Linked DNA regions of Homo sapiens: region 2 is linked to region 1. The links come from fine-mapping of genetic effects on gene expression. Tissue or cell type: whole blood. Region 1 holds a variant in brackets; the other region holds the start of a gene. All regions are shown on one strand. Distances are from middle to middle.

What was found. PIP is the estimated chance that this variant, and not a neighbour inherited with it, causes the effect.
Region 2: it holds the start of NFIB, and the variant in region 1 is fine-mapped to the expression of NFIB in whole blood (INTERVAL, PIP above 0.99).

The regions. Positions count from the first base shown.
Region 1 is chr9:14,194,866-14,205,650 of GRCh38, reverse strand. All of the region lies in intron 2 of NFIB (nuclear factor I B), which reads left to right. It also overlaps the pseudogene RPL7AP47. Among named protein-coding and RNA genes, the nearest start is that of NFIB, 110 kb to the left of the region's middle. RefSeq lists an enhancer at 664-1,163. The variant C/T (reference allele first, on the strand shown) is at 6,228.
Region 2 is chr9:14,308,894-14,319,678 of GRCh38, reverse strand. NFIB (nuclear factor I B) reads left to right here and starts at 5,538. Exons shown (of 11, transcript NM_001190737.2): 1 at 5,538-6,197. The coding sequence starts at 6,168. NFIB-AS1 (NFIB antisense RNA 1) reads right to left here and starts at 2,592. Exons shown (of 2, transcript NR_186536.1): 1 at 2,334-2,592. RefSeq lists a silencer at 5,835-6,129.

The sequences.
Region 1 (10,785 bases):
TACCAAACAGTAATCACTGCCAATGATGATTACAGGAGTACACCAGGCCTAATGTGTCTCTCAACCTGAGCTTAAACTTGCGGAACAGTCTCAAAGAAAAATCCACTGACCTCATTATGCAGTATTTGGCTGCTGTGAACATAGCCTGTTAGCTGGGATTTAAGTTTAACAGAGAAAAAAAGGACAGAGACAATATATACCTTGTGTATATATCGTACTTATGAAGGTGTACTTATGAAGTATTTTTAATTCTTCAAGTGTTTTTTATATTCCTACTATGAACAAATCAGTATGTATTTTTAGTTCCATGCAGTGTCTCCATCATTTCCTCCCTCCCACGTTTTCATTCCCCTTCCTTTCTTCTTTCCCTCCCTCCCACCCTGCTTTCCCTCCCCCTTCCTTCCTCCCTTCTTTTTTCCCCCTCCCCTCCCCTCCCTTCCTTCCAATTTTTGTTCCTTTGGTCAGCCCTTGGAACTCACTCACAGAGACTATGTATCTGATCTCGGTTTTTTTCAGTTTTATGCCACAGACATAGTTAATTCCTCAGATGTTTTTTGAAGGGAAATTTGTATTATTTTTATGTACAGAAAACTCAACAGTGTACATTTAACCCAGTTTGGTGGCAAGTTCTTTAGCTTTTGCCTTTTGAGCTTGGCAATGTAAGCCACAGGCTTGGGACCCAGGACATTGCCTCCCCAGTGATGACGGATCTCATTGGCTCTGTCGTTGTAATTGGTTCTGATAGCTACCACCAGCTTAACCAAAGCCCCTTTGTCTTCTGAGTTAACCTGTATGAAGGCAGCAGTGGTGCAGGTCTTCCTGTGGATTAGATGTCCCAGTCTTGTCTTCCCCTTGATATTGCAGTAAGGGACCCCCATTTTACGACACAGGGCAGGCAGGAACACAACCAGCTCGATGGGATCCATGTTGTATGCAATCACCACCAACTGAGCTTTCTTATTCTACACCAAGGTGGTGATGGTGTTAACTCCTGCTTGAAGGACAGGTGTTCTTAGTGGGGAGGTCCCCTTTGCCGGCGCTTTCTTCTCCGCCCGGGCCAACAGCCTCTGCTTCTTCTCTTGCTTTGTCTCTGGTCTGTACTTGTGGGGCAGCTTAAGCAGCTGAGTAGCTGTTTGGTGGTCCAGGTCCTGGGTGAACTGGTTAATCGCAGGAGGCATTTTCAGTCGCTTATAGAGGATGACTCTCTGCCGCTGCAACCTGCTATAGCGGGGCCATTTCACAAAGCGGGCGAGGTCTCTTTTGGGCTGGATGTCCTGTCTAATGCCAAAATTCTTAGGCCTTTTCTCAAACAGGGGGTTGACCACTTTCTTGGCCTCCTGCTTCTTCAAGACAGCAGGGGCCGGAGCCACCTTCTTCCCCTTGGCCTTCTTTCCTTTCCACATCTTGGGCAGTGGACGGCGGGAAAAGAGAGATCATTCCTCAAATTTTGAGGCCTGTGCCATAGAAAGGTATGAAAAGGTTTTCTTTTGTTAATGTTATTTTAATGTTGTAAGACAAACATAGCCTGTTAAAGGATGAGAAGAAAACAAATTAATTTTTTGGTTTTCATTTTTCATACACGTATGCTTTGATAGAGATTATAAGTTTATGTCAAAATCATGCCATTGCAAATGGGAAAGTGTTGGCTTTGCTTATGCTTCTCTGTAGTATGTTTTAATATGGTCAGAATTTGTTGAGGTTTTTTTTAACATTTTTTTTTCCCCACAAATTAAATGAGTTTCTTTAATCAGCAGAAAATATTGCGGGCATTATGTGTGATTGAAATGTTGAGGTCAGCAGAATTTCGTAAAAGACCCCTTGTCACCATTTTCTATCTGGTAGTATTCCAATATTCCTTTGTAGTTAGTTTTTCAAGCAGCTTTAACTACTGCAACACAAAAGTTGTGGTACCAAGTCTTATTTATGAGGGAAATACACATTTTGACTTCCTGTGAGACAGACTTTAGACCCTGCCTTGGTAGCAGGGTTGGCCTTTGCCCTTGGTGAGGCGGGCCCAGGCCGGCGACATTTCAGGAGGCCGCTTGGCAGCCATTTTAGATCCTGCCCGCGCGGAGAGCTCCTGGCTGCCAAAAACTGCAGTCGCTCCGTGCCAAGACACTCTTGGCAGTGGAGATAAACTTTGTAGAGATACACAGTCCAGAAATATCTTATAATTACAAAGCACAGGGGGCAGAATGTTTTTACAATACAGCTGTGCTAATGTAAACATTTAATTTGGCAGCCTTCTCCACCCACTTTTCAATTAACCGGGTTTATGCAGATACTTTAGGTCTGTAATAAACTTTATTGCTAAGAGTACAGTTTATGAAACACAGATTTGAGGGGCTTTTTTGAGGGGTTTTCCATCCATTTAGGAAAGCACATTGTGAATGTTATGTTGCCGTGAATGGAAAGGGTAGCTTTCTGTCTCAAAAGATGCCATGGGCCTGGCTTAACTGAAACAATTGCTTTAGGAAAAAAAAAATGTGGGGGCTGTCTCCTTTGGCTTCTAAAGCATGCAAGAGGATATTAATAGAAGGAGGTAAAAATCACTTATATAGCTACAAAAAGACACTCGTGTTGATGATCATTCAAAAAGATAAATGTCCCCTGCAAGGCATGAGACTGTTTCAGAGATAAATTCCCAGTAACAGTTCTTACAGATGTAATTGTAATAATTGTGTGATCGCCATGATAATTATTCTTATGGAGTGAAAGAAATAATTTTCTATGTAAGTAGCATTCAACTGTTCAGCTCACAAAGCTAGTCAATAGATCGTTTTCAGCTAACCTAAAAAATGGTAGAGTTCATGGAGTTGTAAAGCTAAATTTGGTATTAATTGACATTGTGAAGGTGATTTTTTTCATAAGAAATATGACATCACAATCCATGATATCTCTTTGCATAGATTTGCTTACCCATTTCTCAGATACGTTAGAGAAAACCATATAAAATACTACACATATGGGTCGTTTTTCTAAAAGACAAGAAACGTAGAACCGATATTTTTATGTCATTCCATTTAGAAACTTTGCTTTGGTGATGATTTTTTTAAATTAGCTTTTGTTTTTTCTTGAGGATGGGTTTGAGTAGCAGAAAACCAATTCTTAACGATGTTTTCTCTCAGTACTCCTTTTGAGACTTTCATGTAGTGTGGCTCCATCAATATTCTATAATGGGATGTGACCACAAAGTAATTTTCATCCTAAAATAGTATTTGACTCTTCAGCTCCCGAACTAGTCAGTAGACCCCTTTCATCTATTCTGAAAGATAATGGAAGTCGGAGAATTTTAAAACTGTGGTCTCATTATTTTATAGTCTCATTATTTCATGCTGCAATAGCTGTTGTGCCATCATACCACCTTTACACATTCTGCTTATCACAGCTAAACAATGCTTTTGCAGTCTGTGGCTTTTAGTCTCTCATGTTTTAGTTGCTATAAACAAAAATTAAATGAAAAAGTTTGTCCCACTGCTAAATCTTTGTGTGTGTGTGTGTGTGTGTGTGTGTGTGTGTGTGAAAAGTATCAATTTTATCTTCAAAATATAATGATTACAGATTCTGCTTATTTGTAAATTGTATAGAGAGCACATTTTACCTGCTAGCAAGTGAATGAAAGTCAACATTGTGCAAATGAAACCATAAGCTCCATGAAGACAAGAACAAATCATCTTTTATTGACTGTTGTAGACTGAGTTCCAAGGATGATACATGGACCACTGTAGGTGTTCAGTCCTTTTCAAAAAAATAAACGAATGGATAAATATCATCTGTATATGTCACAATCAGAATATTGAATGTTAATTACCTGTATAAATTGATAGCTCATTATGACTTTTTTTTTTTAAGGTTACTTTGTCTTTCTTTTGGGAATTAATGCTCTTTGTCTCAGTTTCTTCATGGATAGTACATCCAAGATAAATTTGTATGCCATTTAAATAGATTCCCAAAATTATTCAGGGTAAGTTGGGATACAGGAGGTCACAATCTTGGAGAGAAGTAATGTATAAACAACCAACTATAATGCACTGGTCGGGCCCTGCACTAAAGTGTGAGCAAGACCATGTGGGCCCCAGAGGGTGGTCTCATTAGATGGGGCAATAAGGTTCAGGAAGGTTGTAACAGACGAAATTCAAGAGCTTTTAAAGATGAATTAGGCGTTTGTCTTGCATCAAATAAGGGATATTCCAGGCATAGAAACCTTATGAGCAAGGGCACAGACCTGCAGTTGCACGGCATATTCTAGGACTGTTAAGAAGAATATTAGGAAGTTGGGTGTGGGTGTGAGGGGGAGGGTAAAGGGTGATGGTTTCTGTGAGAGTGAGGCTAGGCTGGGGCCAGGTTATGGAGCACCTTGAATGCTGTACTAAGGAGGTTGTAGATTATCCTAGCTAGCAATTGGAAGCCACCAAGGTGTTTTAAGGAGTGAAGTGTTGTGATTCCTGGTGGCTATGCAGAGGATGGAGTCTGGTTATAGTGTGAAGAGTGAATCATAATGGCCTGAGGAGGCTGAGGCTATTGTGAGGTAAAAATGTGAAGCTCAATAAGGGACTTAGCACCAGTTGGGATGGAGATGGGGAAATAGGCTTGAAAGGAAGATAGAGTCTGGGCTGACAACTGAATGTGAAGCTTTGGGGAGTTGGGGTTTCTGGAATGAGCATTTTCAGCTTGGGAAACTGAATGGCTGTGAATGCCATTAATTGAGATATGGATTGGTTGCGGGGAGGCAAGAGTGTACAAAGGTTGTGCACTAGCAACATCAGGAGGAGTTTTGCAGTTAAAGAAGAGGTTAGGGCTAGATATGGAGATACAGAGTTCTCAAAAAACGGGTAGTATTTGTAAACATGGACCTAGCTGAGTTTGCTGAGGGGGAATGTACAAAGACAAGAAGATGGCCAAGTTGGATGGATCGTCTTTGGGATCACCAACATATAAGGGACCAACAGAAGAGAAGGAGATAGCCATCAAGACAGGAAAGCAGCCCTCAGAAATAGAGGATTGGACCTAAGAAAGGAGTGGTGCCCTAAAGGAAAAGGGAAGGAGAATTTCCAAAAGCTAGGGATACTTAGTGTGAAAAGTCAACTAAGTAGAGTCTGGGAAAGTCAAGTCGTGTTTTAAAAAAAATAGTAATTTTGGAGCTGAAACACATACTTAGACTTACCGATCCTGAGAGCTAGTGTTGGGCATGAGGATTATTATTTTCTTATCTCACATCGTGATCAGAGAGTATGTGAGTTTTGGTATTGTGTTTTATTCCTTGGTCTAACTTCACTGAAACAGATTCTGGGGTCCTGGGTTGCTTAAAGGATGAATATTCTGTAGACTTTAAGAAACTTCTGATGAAAACAGTGGATTATGTTTATTGTAATCTTTCTCTTCTACCAGTTCTGAGAGGAAATTTGCATTTTCTTCATCAAATTTCACCATTGACTACTATATTTTAAGGAGGAGAAGCTAATTTGAAATTTTGCTTTGAGTTTTGAAGAAGGCATGAACAGTTTCACAGAAAATAGAAGGAAATATGCCCAACTACTGAGCACACCCCTTTAAATTGCTCTTACCAGGCCTTCAGACCTAGGGGCAAAATTATGCTCCAGGCTCCAGGTCCCTGGATTCACTCTGTTAGCAGCAGCAGTAAGGAACAGTTTATTTGGACAATCCCTTCTGCTCCTGTTCTCCCTGCGTGATTCCCTATTTTAGCTGTAAAAGACTCAGAAAGTGGTGATTTTATGCTAGTACATACAGAAATACCTTAGCAAATATGATTGAGCCAACTAATGTGTAAGTAAAAACAATAGCTGAGTGGAAACTGGGTGCAACTCTGCAGTCTCCTTGGATATCTTCAGGAGTTTTGTGAAATTAAAAAAAAAATGGATCCTGGATCCTCCAATGAACTGAAGTCATAATCAGTCTGCAATGTTGACTTGAGAATTTCTTTTAAATAAAAATAAATGACCAAGTGGAAGTCTTATTAGCTAAAACCAAAAGCACAAACATACATGGCCCTTTCACAAAGTAAAACGGCTATAAGCATAATGAGACTCCAACACATCTTTACTTTTTTTGCTGTTTTGTTTTTAATTTTTCCAGCTCTTAACATTCTAAGATGCTGCCTTACCACTTCCTTAAGGAAACACAAATGGGTGAGTTAAGTTTTTGAAAGTAAAGGAGGATCCTGTTTAAGTAGATTAGGGTCTGGCAGGCCATTTAACTTTATCAGGCAT[C/T]TAAAGCCGAGGATGTACACTGTAGCCGGCTGTGAGTTGCCAATTAGCTGGGCTTTCCCCACTGTTTCTGGTTTGGCAGGGATGAGGTGGTTCACCCTGCCGCACTACTGCCTGCCAAGGACACATGGCCAGCTCCCGGCTTCCTGTCTTCCTCTTTGTGTCCTGGCCTTGCCTTCCAGGGAGCTGCCAGAACACAATTGCCAAAAAATCTTCCTTCAGAAAGGTCAAGTAACCTCAAGTCACCTATGCCAATATTTGTGTTTTCTTTTTAATCCTTCTGTGTTCGACTTGGAAAAAGCTGTAGAAGCGAACTTGCAGAATGGAACCTGGGTCACTTTGGATCACTTGGATAAAGCAACAGAACCCAAAGAATCCCTTGGCCAGTCAGGGTGTGATGTTTTGAGTAGAATTCTATTTAAAGCTCTGTGAAGTGTGATAGAGTTCAGAATGGTTCAGTGTGGATTTGGATTTAGTTGCTTTTTAGGATTCACTGTACACATGTGATTTTTGGCCAAAGCTGGTGCATCACATGGCAGGGAGAGGGAGAAAAGTGGAGATTGGTTTTGGCTTAAGGACTGCATTTTTGTTTGTTTGTGTTTTCAGGACTCTATAGTCACATACTGCCTTTTGCTTTCCAGTTTGGTGTCTGTGAGCAAGCATCAGCAGCCAAGTCCCTTGTACACTGGCTGAGAACAATGTGCGGGAGTTACCTGGGGTGCTTGTTGAGAGCGCTTTCTTGGCCCCAGCATTGCTGTACGAGTCCCAGTCATTGCGGGTGAGGTCGAGGAATCTGAATTTCTAACAAGCATCTCAGGTGAATCTGATGCTCACTAGAATTTGTGGACTGAATGTCACTGATTGTGAAATGACAATAAGGCAAGTAGCATTTATTGTCATGATACGGCAAGCTGTTCTACTTCTCCTTTAATTGGTCTTTTTGGAGCTCTGTGTTTAATTGGAATCTAGATTATATGCAGATCTCCACTGACAACAAACACTTTTCTGAAAATTGAACTTTTAAAAACCTGTTAACATAAGAAACTTTATCCAAGTAATTGTTCCAGGTTTAAACTCTAAATTTTAGGATGATTTATAAGGCTTTTTTAATGACACGTAGAATGCCATAGTGAACATCCGAAACGACTTTAGAAGGCTCCCTCCCCGTAGCCCACACTGTGAATCATGCTCCTTGGAGACGTGCAGTGTGATGGGCCTAGTGATTTCTGTTATGGAAGGGAAACCCCATTTCTCTAATACTTCATAAAGCAAAGCTTTTATTATTTACTTTGAAAAAATTCCATTTGAGGAATATGGAATTCTTAAAGTGCCTAAACCTGAGCCACCTACTAATTCTTATGGCTGTTGGTAATGAATATAGGGGGCAACGTGTATTCTGTCTGTAGACTCCAGGAAAGTTCAACGTAGCCCCAACATTCCCTTTTGGCTTTTCATGTAAAATTGTCCATAGCACTTTCTTCCTAAGCTCAGTTTAATTTTCTTTTGTGCCTTTTGTACCTCGAGATATGCTGTCTTTCTTGGTGAGAATGGTCTAGCCGTGAACCTTTTCGTCATTGTTTTGTAGCATTCGTAGAGTGAGGACCAGATTAACTGTGTAATTTACCTTTTTTTTCCCCAAGTTATTTCCAAAATTTGCTAAAGCGCTGCAGCCTCAGGGACACCTCTGACTTTCTGACACAGCTAAGAAACACCACACTAATTTGGAACACATGTTCTGTCAAAGTTTACCTATAGCCTTGAGTTCCAAATTTGCAACTTCAGCATCTTCTGTTGAAAATAAACAGCATATTTTTTCTTAAGCTCCCTTTTTGCCTCCCCTTGAACTCCACAGTCTTTTATAAATAGTAATAAGGAAATGTGGTTATGGGTATAATTGCCACAAGGCAATTGTACCCTAGAGGACTGATAGAATTTTCTTTTCTATATCGGAGGGCTGGGCTCCATCAAGAAGATCCATTTGCAAATAACTCAATTGGAAGAATAACAACAGTGTCTTTATTTTTATAGCAACTTTCCCTATAGAGATCACAGTACAGTGTGTTAGGGACATCCTATCAGATTCATTGTTCTAATACCCCAGTGGACTGGAATAAAGTTTTATTATAGCTTGTTTGAGACAGGAGAGTGAGACTGAGAAAGGTTAAGGGTCGTCCCTCAGATCCTAAGAAAGTCAGAAGGGGAAATGCAATGAAAAATCAAGGTTTTTCTATTACTCTGCAAGTTGTCAAGCTCTGCATTCCTTTCTGGTAATTGTAAAGGGTCAGAATAAAGCACAACCTATTTCGGGATTGCAAAGTAATGTAGATGAAAATGCCTCGAAAATAGCTAAGGTATTCTTGCTATCTTTATCATATTTAGTACAAATGGAAGGTAAGAAAGAGCCTTATTGTCAGTATCTAATTGTACCAATGTATATGAAATGGATTTTGCACATTCTTGATTGATTGGATTCAAACTGCCAAGTTGTCTTAATCATTAATAAAAGACAAATGGAAAATAACATTTATAATTCTGGATTTAAAGGAATTCCATACGATTTGACAACAAATTTTGAACAGATTAAGAAGCCAAAGATCAAAGTTACTCTGATTACATAAACGGCCTAAGAAAACACTTAATTAAGTAGTCTGATTTTTCTTTTTAAGGTTTTACTTGTAGACTCCATAGTTCTGAGGGTAGGAGTGATGAACTTAGGCTCTGTTTTTTTTTTTTTTTTTAAGTTAGAATAAGAGAATTGGGAGTAAAATTACTACTAATCTTTCAACCTGATTTCAAGGAGCCTTGGAGGACACATTCTGTGGGGAGTAGACACAATTAACTTGATGCTCCTAATTACTGTTGTTTGATTTGTGATTAAAGGTGGTATATTTTGGTGTAGCGCTTTTGGCTTCTCAGGTGTCCAGTGTGCTGCTGCTGGGGAGAGTAGGGGGTGGCAGCATTCCCTCCCTTAAACAGGAACCCCCTTCCGCAAACTAGAAGCTGAGATATCAGAAATAACCCACATTTAGTCAGACCTTGCCTTCTAATGAGAAAAAGTGAAAAATTAGGCAAAACATAAACACACGGCTTTTTAAAGCTCTCTTTGATTTTCAAAGTTCTAGAGTGGGTTCATATTTTTTCACTTTAACCCAAGCGAGTGAAGCTATCTTTCACTTATAGATCCTCCCTGAGTGCCTCATGGGAGGAGTAATGGCCTTGAGACTTTTATCTCATCATCACTGCACCTCTTGTTATGTCTTGATGCTTAATGAATGTTAAGCTGAAAACTAATCCAGGTAAACAGGTGAACGGAAAATTAAGTTCAACCAGCGTGAACATAGAAAAAAAAAATCCTTCATTTAGGAGCACCATTAGCACTGCCAATGGACTAAGGAGACACATGCTGTTCCCTACCAGGTGATTGGATCATATCAGCTAATTTATTCTATTTTTAATAATTGCTGGATGATATTAATAGGGAACTTTCAGTTATTATTTTATTATTATGCATTTTCTTTTGCAAAAAAAAAAGTTTAAAAAACATTTTCTTAAATACCCCACCCCCTTTTTCCTCCCAATGCCCTTACTAGATTCCTTTGTCTATGTTTGCAATGTCATTGTGTTTTTCATGGTGTGACATACATACCCTTAATGCCATAAAAGATTCCTGCTCTGTGAAAAGAAAGTTGAACAGTGTTGTCACTTTGAAAACACAGTGATAGCTTTGAATGGGAGTCTAATGTGAGGAGGAAGCTTTGGCTTTGGGATCCAGATTGCTGTAGCCAAACTTCCAAATTCAGATTTGGTCTGCAATCCTGGCTTCACTGCAGTCATTTATATCGACAGTGAATAAAGAAACCTAAATAAACAAGAATGAAGTGGCAACACAATAAAAGTCGTCTCATATGTGCTTTATACTTTCAAATAAAAATTAGAATTTATCATTTTCTTTGAGATTATTTCTCTGTTTCGTGTGCTCACAAAATTAGCTTGATGTTTTAACCCATCTTTATTTCATTAAAGTATTCCTTAGATATGGAGTTTTCTAAAAAATACAATATTTTGTCAATAAGATGGAAAATGACAAGCATTATTTCCTAAAAGCACCACAGGAGAGAGAAGCATTGTGCATTTATTAGGTAGTGACAGAGCTTTGCAGATGGATGAAGGAAGCTGTAACATCAAACCTTGCCATCTCTGGCGGTTTAAATTCTCTGTAGGTCAGTTCTACCAAAAGTTTTTTGTTTTTTGTTTTTTTTTAACTTCTTTTGCCAGTTGATTGGTCCTATGAAGTAAATTAATGGTTTCAGTTCAATTCTTGGGCACATAACCACCCCAGTTAGCATTCTCTGGGGACCTTATTGGCTTAAGCAAGCCTAGAAGAATAGGATTTCCTTCCAGGGTCAGGTATAGAACATTGTGGAGAAGCTTACGGGATCTCTTTCTCTTTTGTGAAAGAGAGAGAGAGAGAGAATGTGTGCTGGATTGAGGTGGTAGAGTGCACCTCCAATATTAAAAAATAATTTCCTAATACGTTATCTCAGTGTTATTTTGTTCTATC
Region 2 (10,785 bases), 110 kb before region 1:
CTATACCTGTCTTAAAAACCCATCTGTTTTCCTATGTTACAAGGCATGTGTATATGGGTAATAGAAGCCAGTTTACCTGTAGAAATAAAATGGTCATATAGTTTTACTTTATAGGTCAGCTATTTTGAAAAAGAGCAATAACTGCAACTCTCTCAATATCAGCAGACAAGAGACACTGTGTGAGAGAGTATATGGAACCTTTGTAACATTGTGGATAAGTGAGGCAACTATTACCTCTATTTTCAAAGTTTAAAATACATCATGCAAAAGTTACAGGGCAACTGCTGACTTTGTAATCTGTGAAGCAAGTGTCTTACAGTGTTGGGAATCTCTGTTGATGCACTGGCCTCATCTCTGTTGAGAAGTGAAAACCGGATAACCTTAGTGGAGGAATCTGGCTCAGTTGGTGTTGAGATCAGAACTGTATTATAACTTGTAAATATGCTAGAAATGTAGACACACTTAGTGGGATGCTTTTTTTTTTTTTTTAAACAGTGGAGTAGAGGCATTTCGGCAGTGACATTATTAACAGCGTCATTTTTCTCATTTACTTTTGTCCTCAGGGGACACCAAATAGCTCCCAGAGGAGGAGAAAAAGGTCCAAGGTTATTTATTCATTTCAGTGCAAAGGGCTAGCAATGGGGGTGGGGAAACTAACCAGTTGTGAATTCTCTGGTGGGGAAAAAATTACTACCCTAATTTGACAGTAGTACGTTAAGGGCTGGGTATGATTTTGTTTTTTGTTTAAGAGTAGTAGACAGTAGTAGTAGTACTCAGTAGTAGTTTAAGAGCTGGGTAATTTGATTACCTGAGCTGGTAAAATTGATTTTGCAATTCTCATCAAGTACAGGCACTTTCAATACTTCTTGATTGTTTATATATGCATTTATGAGTGGATTTTTGGTGTTCCTCCTTGTGGATATAAATTTGTGTTTTCCAGACTACACATGTATGATTTTTGTGGTTCATTTGGAAAAAGGAAAGATCCCAGGGCATGGTGCAGTAGATACTTGCAGTTTTGCAGGCCTGCTTTCTGGGGTCAGGAGGTCATCTGTCTCTTTTGCATTTAGTTTTTAAATATTGATATTGGTGATGCAGCCAGGGTGTGTAGAATAGTTGAACCTTCTTGCAAACCACATGCAAGAGCCAAAAAAAAAAAAAAAAAAAAAAAAAGGCATCGAGTGTATTGGAAATGACAGCTTTGTTAAGTTCCAAGAAATCTTTCATGAAACTGCCCAGGATTTGCAACCTGTCGCTGCAATTTCTTTAGGAAGGAAAAGGTTAAAAGAAAAACAATATTAGATACTTGAGATGTCAAGCTCCTCTCTGGAGATCCGTAGTGAAAGGCTCAAATGTGGTAGCGTTGCTTATTTCAAATATACAACTGGGTTTTGAAAAATCCAGTGAGCTGAAGCACTGGCATTCTATTTAGAAATCAATAAACTTTCTGTTAGTTAGAAAGGAAACTTTTTTTTTTCCCTTATAAGGCAGCAAGGAGATCTAGGGAGGAGATCTTTAAGAATACTGAAATAACAGAGTTTCCTGTTGCTGAGAGAATCATTCACTTCTTTCTGCCTCCTCAGCCAGGTTTTGGGGTGAATGAAAGTGGCCTGTCACACCAGTGCTTTTAACCCTCTCAGTGTGGGAGGGAGAGATGAAGAGTTTAGGATTGGTAAGTACCAAAGTTTAAGAAGTGTTTGGCCCATTTTGATACTATCAGAAGCTTTTCAGAGATATTTCCACTCTTAATACCACGACACAGACGTGCTAGAAAAAATGGAAAGTGAATACAATGCAGGCACTTTCTCAGTTCCTCCTTCTACCTGGGATTTAAAAGATTGAGATTTTCAAACCAAAGGTGGTGGACAAGTGTTGTGTTAAGAGAAGCCAGGCATCCCATGCACCGAAATCCACCAGTCCCTCTTTCCAAACAACTCCCTAGAGTTCTTCCAGGGAAGGCCTGCAATGACCTTGGCATTGGCTGGACAAGAAGAAGTGTTTTGGGGGGTGTCAGCCATTCTCCACATGGCTGCAAGGCCTGAGAAGACAGTCAAAGCCATAGAAACTGAGCACCCCCATAAACCTTCTTTTTCAGGAAGTCTCTGTTGCTCACTCTTCATTCCTTTTTGGTTTTCCTCGCCTCACCATACTCCTATCTCATTTTCCTTTTTCTGGGAAACAAATCAAAACCAAAAACTATCAAGCATCCTCTATGGTCATCAAAGTGCAACCAGCCATAAGCACCCTCAAACGTGGGGCAATTGAAAGAGATTTGAACCCCTAAGTGATGGGCCTGGGAGGCCCCAGACGTCTTCACTTCTCTGGGGTCTTACCTGGATCTGACGCTGCTTCTTCGCCCTTGGTGTTGCTGAAGCTTTTGTGGGCTCTTCTGTGTAATACTTGTCAATTTTTCGTTTTTCTTTTTTAAGCTTGTGAAAAACTTTTGGATGCAACCTAGTTTTGGTGGCAGAAGGAAATGGTTTCTGTTGGGAAAGGGAAACTAATAAAGGGAGGAGGGGTAGCGATGTCGGGAGACACTTGCCCAGGGCTCAGCCCTGGGCCTCTTTTTGCCAGGGGACAACGGCTGGTTCTGGGCTCTCAGGCTGAAAGGAGTGCTCTCTGGGTGCCAGGATTTCACTGGGGGTGGTGTGGTGAGGAGGGAGGGAAGAAGGGAGGGAGGGAGAGAAGGAGAGATGGGCGCTCGATTTTTAAAGAGACCCCGAAATAATGGCTTCTATGAGAGTCCAGGCATTCAAAGAGGTGTGTTCAAGGATATTAGTGCATTCCTGCCAAGGGGAATGTCTTTTATGGTAAATTAACTCCAGTTAAATTGAATATTTGTTCAAAGGGAAACTGCAGTAGTTAAAGCTGGTATTATCAGTAGAGCTTCCCCACCCCCTCCCCTCAGAATCTGGTGAGGGTGAGAAAGGGGATGCAGTGTAATGTGCAATACAAAGTGATGCTTTCGTGCTGGTGGTTTCTCTGTGTGTGTGTGTCTGTGTGTGTTTAATCTAAGATGAGGTTGCCTAAAATTTCTGAGAGAAATGAGTATTTACTTGGATTAACCCTGTCACCTCATTTCTTTCATCCATAAAGACTGCCAACTTTATCCCAGCTTTTCAAAAAGAAGAAATGACCCGCACAAAGGAAATTAACGTTGTCAGAACGCTGACTCCAGGATTTGCCGGGGCAGGGGCGGGGACCGCAGGGAGGCCGCTCCCAGGGCGTGTGGCCGAAAGGGTTAACTCGCAGGGGTCCGCGCGATCTCCCCGACTTTACCTGTCTTCCTAGTCCCAGCAGCCCCCGTCCCCGGCCTCCCGAACTCCCCACCCCCCAGCGCCTTTCTTCTTTGGGCTCTGGGTTTACGGGGGCTGCAGCTGGTAAACTTGGCAAGCTCGCCTCATTAAGAGCGCTCTTTGAAAACGGACTGTGTTTGAGCATTTCCCTAATGAGGACAGGACGGGGTTAAAAAGTGACCATTTCATGGTTGACTTGAACCTGCCTACTTTTCTTGATGTGTCGTTGTGAAATGCTTGATGTGGATAACTCCCACTTGGTGAAGGAAAAAGTCACTGGTTCCTCCAGGTCCGCTGGGGGAGGGAAGAGGGGACGGTGGACAGAAACCAGAGGGAGTGAGAGGGGCTAAAGTTGAGGGGACAGATCACGAGCTGGGAAGCGGTGGAAAGAGGACCGGGGAATCGGGGGCGAGCCTCGAAACGCCCCAGCAGTACCCGTGGAAGCGGGGCGGCCCCGCCCTGGGGATGGGCCCGCGAGGACCCGGTAGCCCCAGCGCCCCCCGGATCCCCCAGCTAGGTAGACTCGGAGCCCCAGGCGCTCACTTTTCCTCCCTCCATTGTCTGGGAGGCCTTTGCTTCCCCCTCGTCCCCATCCACCCCAAGCAGAAAACTGGATTTGGGGGGCGGTGTGTGTATGTGGGCGGGGGGTGCAGAAAGGGTGCAAGGCGAACCGCCTTCTTCAAAATCCCTGGAATCAAGTTCATTCACTCGGAGCCTGCACGGGCGACGGGGTGGGGGCGGGGCAGCGCCGCGGTGGGGAGCCGGCGCGGGCGCCGAGCGGCTCAGGGCCCGCAGCCTCTGGAGGGCTGCAGCGGCGCGCGCGCGCCCGCCGGCCCGCCCCGCAGCCCCGGGCGCGCCGCGGCCCCGCCCCGCCTGCACCCGGGCGGGTAGGGAGACGCTTTCCGCCGGCGCCCCGGGCCCCGGGGGGTGGGGATTGGGAGCCAGCCAGCGGGGCTGCAGGAGGAGGAGGAGGAGAGCGAAGCCGGGCGCGGGGAGGAGGTGGAGGGAGCAAGAGGCGGCGGCGGCGGCTCGGCCCGGTCCTCCCGCTCAGAGCGAGGCCACGTGCACGGGGCACCCCCGGGGAGGGCGGCAAACCGCGGCGAAGCGCCGCGCGCCGCGACTGCCTCGGGTGCGGGCCCCTGGTGGGCAGACCCGGGACGAACCCGCACCCCCTCCCTATCCGCGAACCCGGGCTCCGGGCGGGGCCGTCGGGGGCTGGGCGCCGCACCCCCCTGGTCCACGCCGGCGCGCCCCAACTACTTGAGCCCAAGTTCGCTCAGGTCCCCGCCTGCTCGGCCTCCCCCTTTTCCCGGCAGCCGCAGGCTCCGCGGACTGAGCCCGCCCCGGGTGCGAGTGTCCGCGCCCCAGCCCCGGCCTGGGGGCGGCCTGGGTGTGAGGGAATTTTCCACTCGTTCCTTTCTCGGGCTCAGACGGTTTCGGTGCTTCTCCCACTCGGATGTTCCCGCGGCTTAAAAGAGTCCGCAGCGAGCACCGAAATACCTCTTCCAGGGCGGGTTTTCGGGGGTGTGTATGTGTGTGCTGGTGTGGGGAGGGCAGCGGAAAGAAGAGCTATTTTGGAAAAAAAAAAAAAGTCATGGTTCTGTAGCACCGGTAGGATACCTTTAACAAATGAGGGAGAGGTGGGGGGAGAGAAGGAGAAGGAGGAGGAGGAGGAAGGTGGGGGGGCGGGGGGTGTGGAGAGGCTGGTGCAAAAGGAATGCGCGTTTGCAGGAGGAGGAGTAAAGCGATGATTGTGTAATTAAATAATAAAACAATCCTTAAGTCTGATTTGGAGAGAGCTCGAGCGGGGTCCAGAGGGTGGAACCGGTGAATTTTTCAACTTCCAAGTTTTGCAACGAAAGAAAGCAAGAGAGGGAGGGAAAAAAAAGAGCCTAGAGCAGAAAAGAGAGGAGTTTGGAGCCGAGCGGGAGAGCGGGATTTATCGTTTGGAATTTTTCAGGAGATCGTTTTGATACCCCTGGGCTCTGGGCAGCGGCGGCAACAGCAGCCTCCACGCTCGGCCGGGTCAGACGCGGGGCGAGGCGGGCGGGCGGGCGGCCGGGCGCCGAAGACCCGGCGCGGGCGGCGGCGGCTGCTGCTGCCGGGGACCACGCGCCGCGAGCCTCTTCCGCCCCAGAGATCAGCGCTCGCGCCCCCTCCCTCACCCCGGCCTCTCCCTTCTCCCCCATCCCACCCCGCCCCCACCCCGGCCCTCTCCCGCGCGCGCCCCGCCACCCGCGCGCACTCGCTCACGCTGCCCCTCGCGCACACACATGGTCGGCTCGCGGCAAAGTTTCGCCTGCGATCACCACTCCGGGATCCTGCCGCAGTGCTTGGGGCTGTAACCTTGAACTTTCCCAGCGCGGTGACACATTCTCCCCGCTCTCCCTCCCGCCCGCCCGCTCGCCCTCCTGCGCCCTCCCGCGCCCCCCTCCCCGCCTTTTTTGAAAAAGCATTTTACCACCAACCACCACCCCAATCCAACCCACACCGAACCTTCGCGCACCCCCTACACCCCAACAACAACAACAACTGCAAAATAGAAAACAAATCCCCAAACCCAGGCGAAAAGCAGCCAACACCGGCGGCGGCGGCGGCCTCGGCAAGCACGGCCAGCGCGCTCGGACTGCAAGAGGGTTAAAAGTGTAGATTGGATTTCACCCCTGGAAATCTAGCACGCCGAGTGAACTTGAATCTTTGGCTATTTAAGGAGGACTGGGTTTGTTGTGAAGTTGCGGTGATCCAGCGCAGAGCCCCGTCCTGATTGATCGCATCGCGGGGCTCAGATGACTGTAAAATGAATAGATGAAATTCTTGCTTCTCGAAGATTTTCTTGGGCATCTCCCGGAAAGTGCGTTTTAAGGCGAAGTCATGATGTATTCTCCCATCTGTCTCACTCAGGTACATGTCTCGGTCGCTTTCTCGAGCTTTCTCTCTGGCCCGAAATGCCTTTGTTTTGTTTTGTTGCGGACAATTAGCGGCTTGAGTTAACCTCCGCACATCCCCGTCCCTTGGAGAAGTGGCCCGGAGTTGCAGCGGGCGTCGCGGGGCGGCGTGGGAGCCGGGAGCGGCCCCTCGCCACGGCCACTGCGAGCGCCCAGCCCCGCGCCCTGGGCACGGAGCGCGGGCGCTGGGCCGGGCAAGGCCGCCGGGGGGTGGGCAGGGCCGGGACCTGTAAGTGCGAGGCCCCGTGCGGCCCCTCAAGTGCCCGTTGTGGTGCGGCATCCCCGCCCGGGGTGCCCGTAGCCCCTCTCAGCAGCTCGCGCGTTGAGGTGGACTCGGGCTTTGGAGGACTTTACGGGGGACTAAGCTTTTAAAAACAGCCAGTGAACTTGGGCGAGGGGACTGTAGCACGAGTCTGTGTGGGCGCCGCTGGACTGCGCTGCAGGCGGTGGGCGGGCGACGAATCGAGTCGGAGGTTGTGGTCCGGGGACCCATTCCTTTGCTTTATTTGGGGATCTGAAACCCTGGTCCATAGTGACCTGCTGCACTTTGGGGTTTCTAGTGACCGCACCACAAAGGCAGTATTTACGTTGACACGAGTTAGTTGGTCTTGGTGATTGTTAAGGAGTTTTTAGAACGTGTTCCTTTTGTGGAAACCTGTTCATTTGACGATATTTGGGCGTAGCTCGTAAGGCATTTTAAGTAATGCTGGTAGAAGTAAGGTCATTTTTTTCGACTTTGAGAATTGTCCTAAGACCTTAGGAATAATGTTATGAAATAAAACACTGGTTTTATACTTTTTAGAAACACGATTTGTATCACTTTAAGCCAGACGGTCAAATAGAAAAGCGGCGAGACCCAACAGACTTACCTGGGGGCAGTTTTCATCGCTGCCCAGGGAACTAACAACTGACAAAGTAACTAAAATATCTTAGCCCAGAACTGTTATTTGAGGCAGTATTTTAAACCTCTAAAGGTATGGGGCAGCTTATTTCAGCTTTTCGGAAGATGTGTCACCATTGGTAATTGATAACTATTTTCTTTGACATTGCCATGAAAACTAGTCATATAAAGAAGTGTCAGCCAGTCTTGGGCGTGTTAAAATTTTAAAAACATCTAATATCACGATGATGCATTTTTATAATGGACAAATAATTAAGATTTCAATTGTATGACAATTAGAAGCCATTGTGATTCAAAAGGACTGAGGCATTCATAAATTGTGAATGAAGATGAAAACAATGATAAGGCTTATTCAGTGATTGGATACAGTCCTGTAGCTTTTTGGCTGACACATTTTTTATTGTTTATATTTTGTTTGGCATCTGAGTATGATTAACTTAGATATGGCTATTTTCAGCAAGTAAACACGCACTTTAATTTAACAAAACTGGAAAAATGAGTTGCTGAGCTATTTGTATTTTAAAAGCCATGAATGATAATAGCCAATAAATATGATGAAACTGTTTCAGGTATAACGAATTGCCTTTACTTGTAAAAGTTACCATTAATATTACCCATCGGCTGGATATATTTTTCTCTTTCTGATAAGCTGTGTTAACTTGATATTATTTTTACACCGTGATCAAATAAAACAAATCAAAGCAAGATTTTCACTTACAGAGTATAGCATCACTTATTCTCACCTGTAAAAGATTGAATAATTGTGCATTTCTCTATATTTCTAACATCAGCTTTTCAGAAACATTGCTAGCAATTACATTGCATTTTTAGTATCCTCCAAATATGTATTGAAAAGTCACTAGTTTTATCTTAATTTGTGTAAGTTAAAGATAATATTGCAGCATTGAGACAGGGAATGTTGGGATCATATACAGCATAATCATTCAGCTATCACATTAGTATTCAGAGATACACACTTAACAACAATAACTTGTGATGACTAATATTCTCTACTATTTTAATAATATAAATCTAGGCTTATGTATTAAAACAAGGCCTACACCAGGGAAGGAATTTCAGCTTAAGAATTTTCACTTCACTAAGCTCCATGTGACTTTGCAGGTAATATAGGTGTTATAAAAGTGAGGCCACATTAATAGTGTCACTTTTGTATCAGATCAGTAGTTTTGTATCACAAGAGCCTAGTAGCTGTAGAAAAACATGTCTCAGGACATGTAAATTGCAAAATAGAGTATCATTCTTAATTGGTTATAAACTTTTAAAAGTATCTCAATTGTTGCAATAAGGTATCTAGGTTTTAGAAAAAAAATCTTAATTTAAAAGGACCTACCATTAAATGTTATGTTTAGCAAAATAGTATGCTACAAAATCAGCATATCAATAACCAATATTTATACACCAGTATAAATCAGATATAAAGGAAAAATTAAGAACTATCATATGATTTAATATATGTTTAAAAATAATGTAAACCATTAATAATATAACTTTCAATTGGCATGATGGCATTAAATATATTTTTCTTTCGTTGCTTTTAAGTTCTTTAGGTACATTTTTTGCATGATTTGTTGTTATATAGCAATGCGCCAAGAGCACCTAGTATTTACTCTTCTACCTCTATGTTGGTCTAAATTATCCATCCCTTTCATGGAAACGGAAGAAAAATAAATATGCCTAGTGGAATTAAGACTCTTTATTTTTATATCTGAAATTGGTAACTTTGTTATTTACTTTGTCAATTTAGTTCAACTAAAGGAAGTTTTAAAAGAGAATTACTGAACATCAATGCATTTTACTAAAAATTCTGAAAGAGCAAAGTTGCCTATTACCTTTGTATACAGTTGTTTGGTTTTAAATCACTTATATGTTTTGCTTTTTTTAAAGAATTTATGATTGCTTAATGCTATTGTAATAATCCACTACTAGTTAGGATATTTGAAAACCTTAATCACCTTTTAAAAAAATATTTTTGTATCAGGACAGTTATTATGTTCCATATTCATGTCACTCATAATCTTTAAGACTCTAGTGTTACTCAGCATTAGGAAACAGTCACACTTGGGAGATGACATTTAGGCATGTTAATACAGAAATATATGCGACTTACAGCAAACCTCAATTTACAGTCATTTTTGGAGGATATGTCCCCTTGTCAAATAAGTGCTTCACTTGAATTCACATAATAGTGAAACCCTGAACGATATCAATAAGGCAAACTGGCAGCCTGAGAAAGTTTGCTACTTTTATTTCTCAAAAAAAAGAGCATGTTTTAAAACAATATTGGCAGCATTGACAGCAAAGTCAAAGGAACGTTTAAAAACTGTGTGCATTTGCTAAGAATTTTCAAATTCAACCTTCAAATTTGAATTTTGGTTGTTTAAAATAACTCATTAAAATTTTGAGCTTTCTTGTGTGATAGATTATATTTATAATCAAATATTGAAACTCAAATTTAATCAAAACTGTGTTTGATGTCTTTATAAGAAAATGAAATGTCACTGAACATAGTACTTAAGGTGTAAGTACTTACGTGTTACCACATGGCTTAATATTTATAAAATAATATTGCATTTTAAAAAGCATGGCAAGGGTAAAATGAGTGAGACAGAGCCCACCCACTCCACCTCATGTGCTCTTTACATTCTCAAGGTTTTAGTTTTGTGAGTGCATATATGTGTGTTTTTTAGTCATATCAATAAATCGTAGTAAAAGATTATAGGAAGTGAGTTTCCAAAGCACATTTAAGTCCACATTTCCTTGAGCAGGCTTTCCTTTTGCATATATTCCTAAAGGGGATAAACAAAGTTTTTGTAGTTACAGTGAAAGCTAAAAGCATGGCATCAGAAAGTGTATGGAGATAGGGAGGTCTTATCATGGGATGTGGTTGCTGTGAGCAGGGCTGCCTTCCCACACAAAGAACAGATTGTGGTTTAACTCTTTCCATGGCCTAGTTTAATGTGCTCGCATAGTAACTGAATTGTTCAAATCTCTGCTGGAAACTACTGATCGGTTTAATGATTTCCTCTATGGCATTTGGGTATGCCTCATGCTGTGATGTAATCATCAGCATTCTGTATTGTTATAAAATTTTGATTCATACTTATTCTGGTGAAGGAACACTTACAGCAATGTTAGAACACTTGATAACTACATTATTGATTGGATGGGACATGTACTCCTTCCATATCTGAAGTGCAAACAGCTAACATGTTGCAGTCTGTAGCATTAAAACTTCGAATTTCTTCTTCAAAATGTATTCATATCTATATTGGATTTTTGACACCTTCTTTGTTAAAGAGTCATTAGTTGTACTTTCATCATATTTACCTAATGGAATTAATTAGTCAGTCTGCTGTTAAATAGAATTTATTCCACGTAGTTCAGGGTGATTAACATGAGTATGTAAATTCTAACTTGGGATACAATCAGAGAGTTATTTTGTCGTTGGGCTGACAGTATAGTCAATATGATCAGAAAAGTGGTGGTGGTGGAAGTTCTCATTTGCTTCAAATCTTGGCTTATTGCGTACATGCGGTGTGCATGTACAGGACGTTAAGCTCTTTCTCTTTGAACAGTAATAGGCCTAAGCTTATAAGACAGGTTTTACCTAAATCAGGAAGTA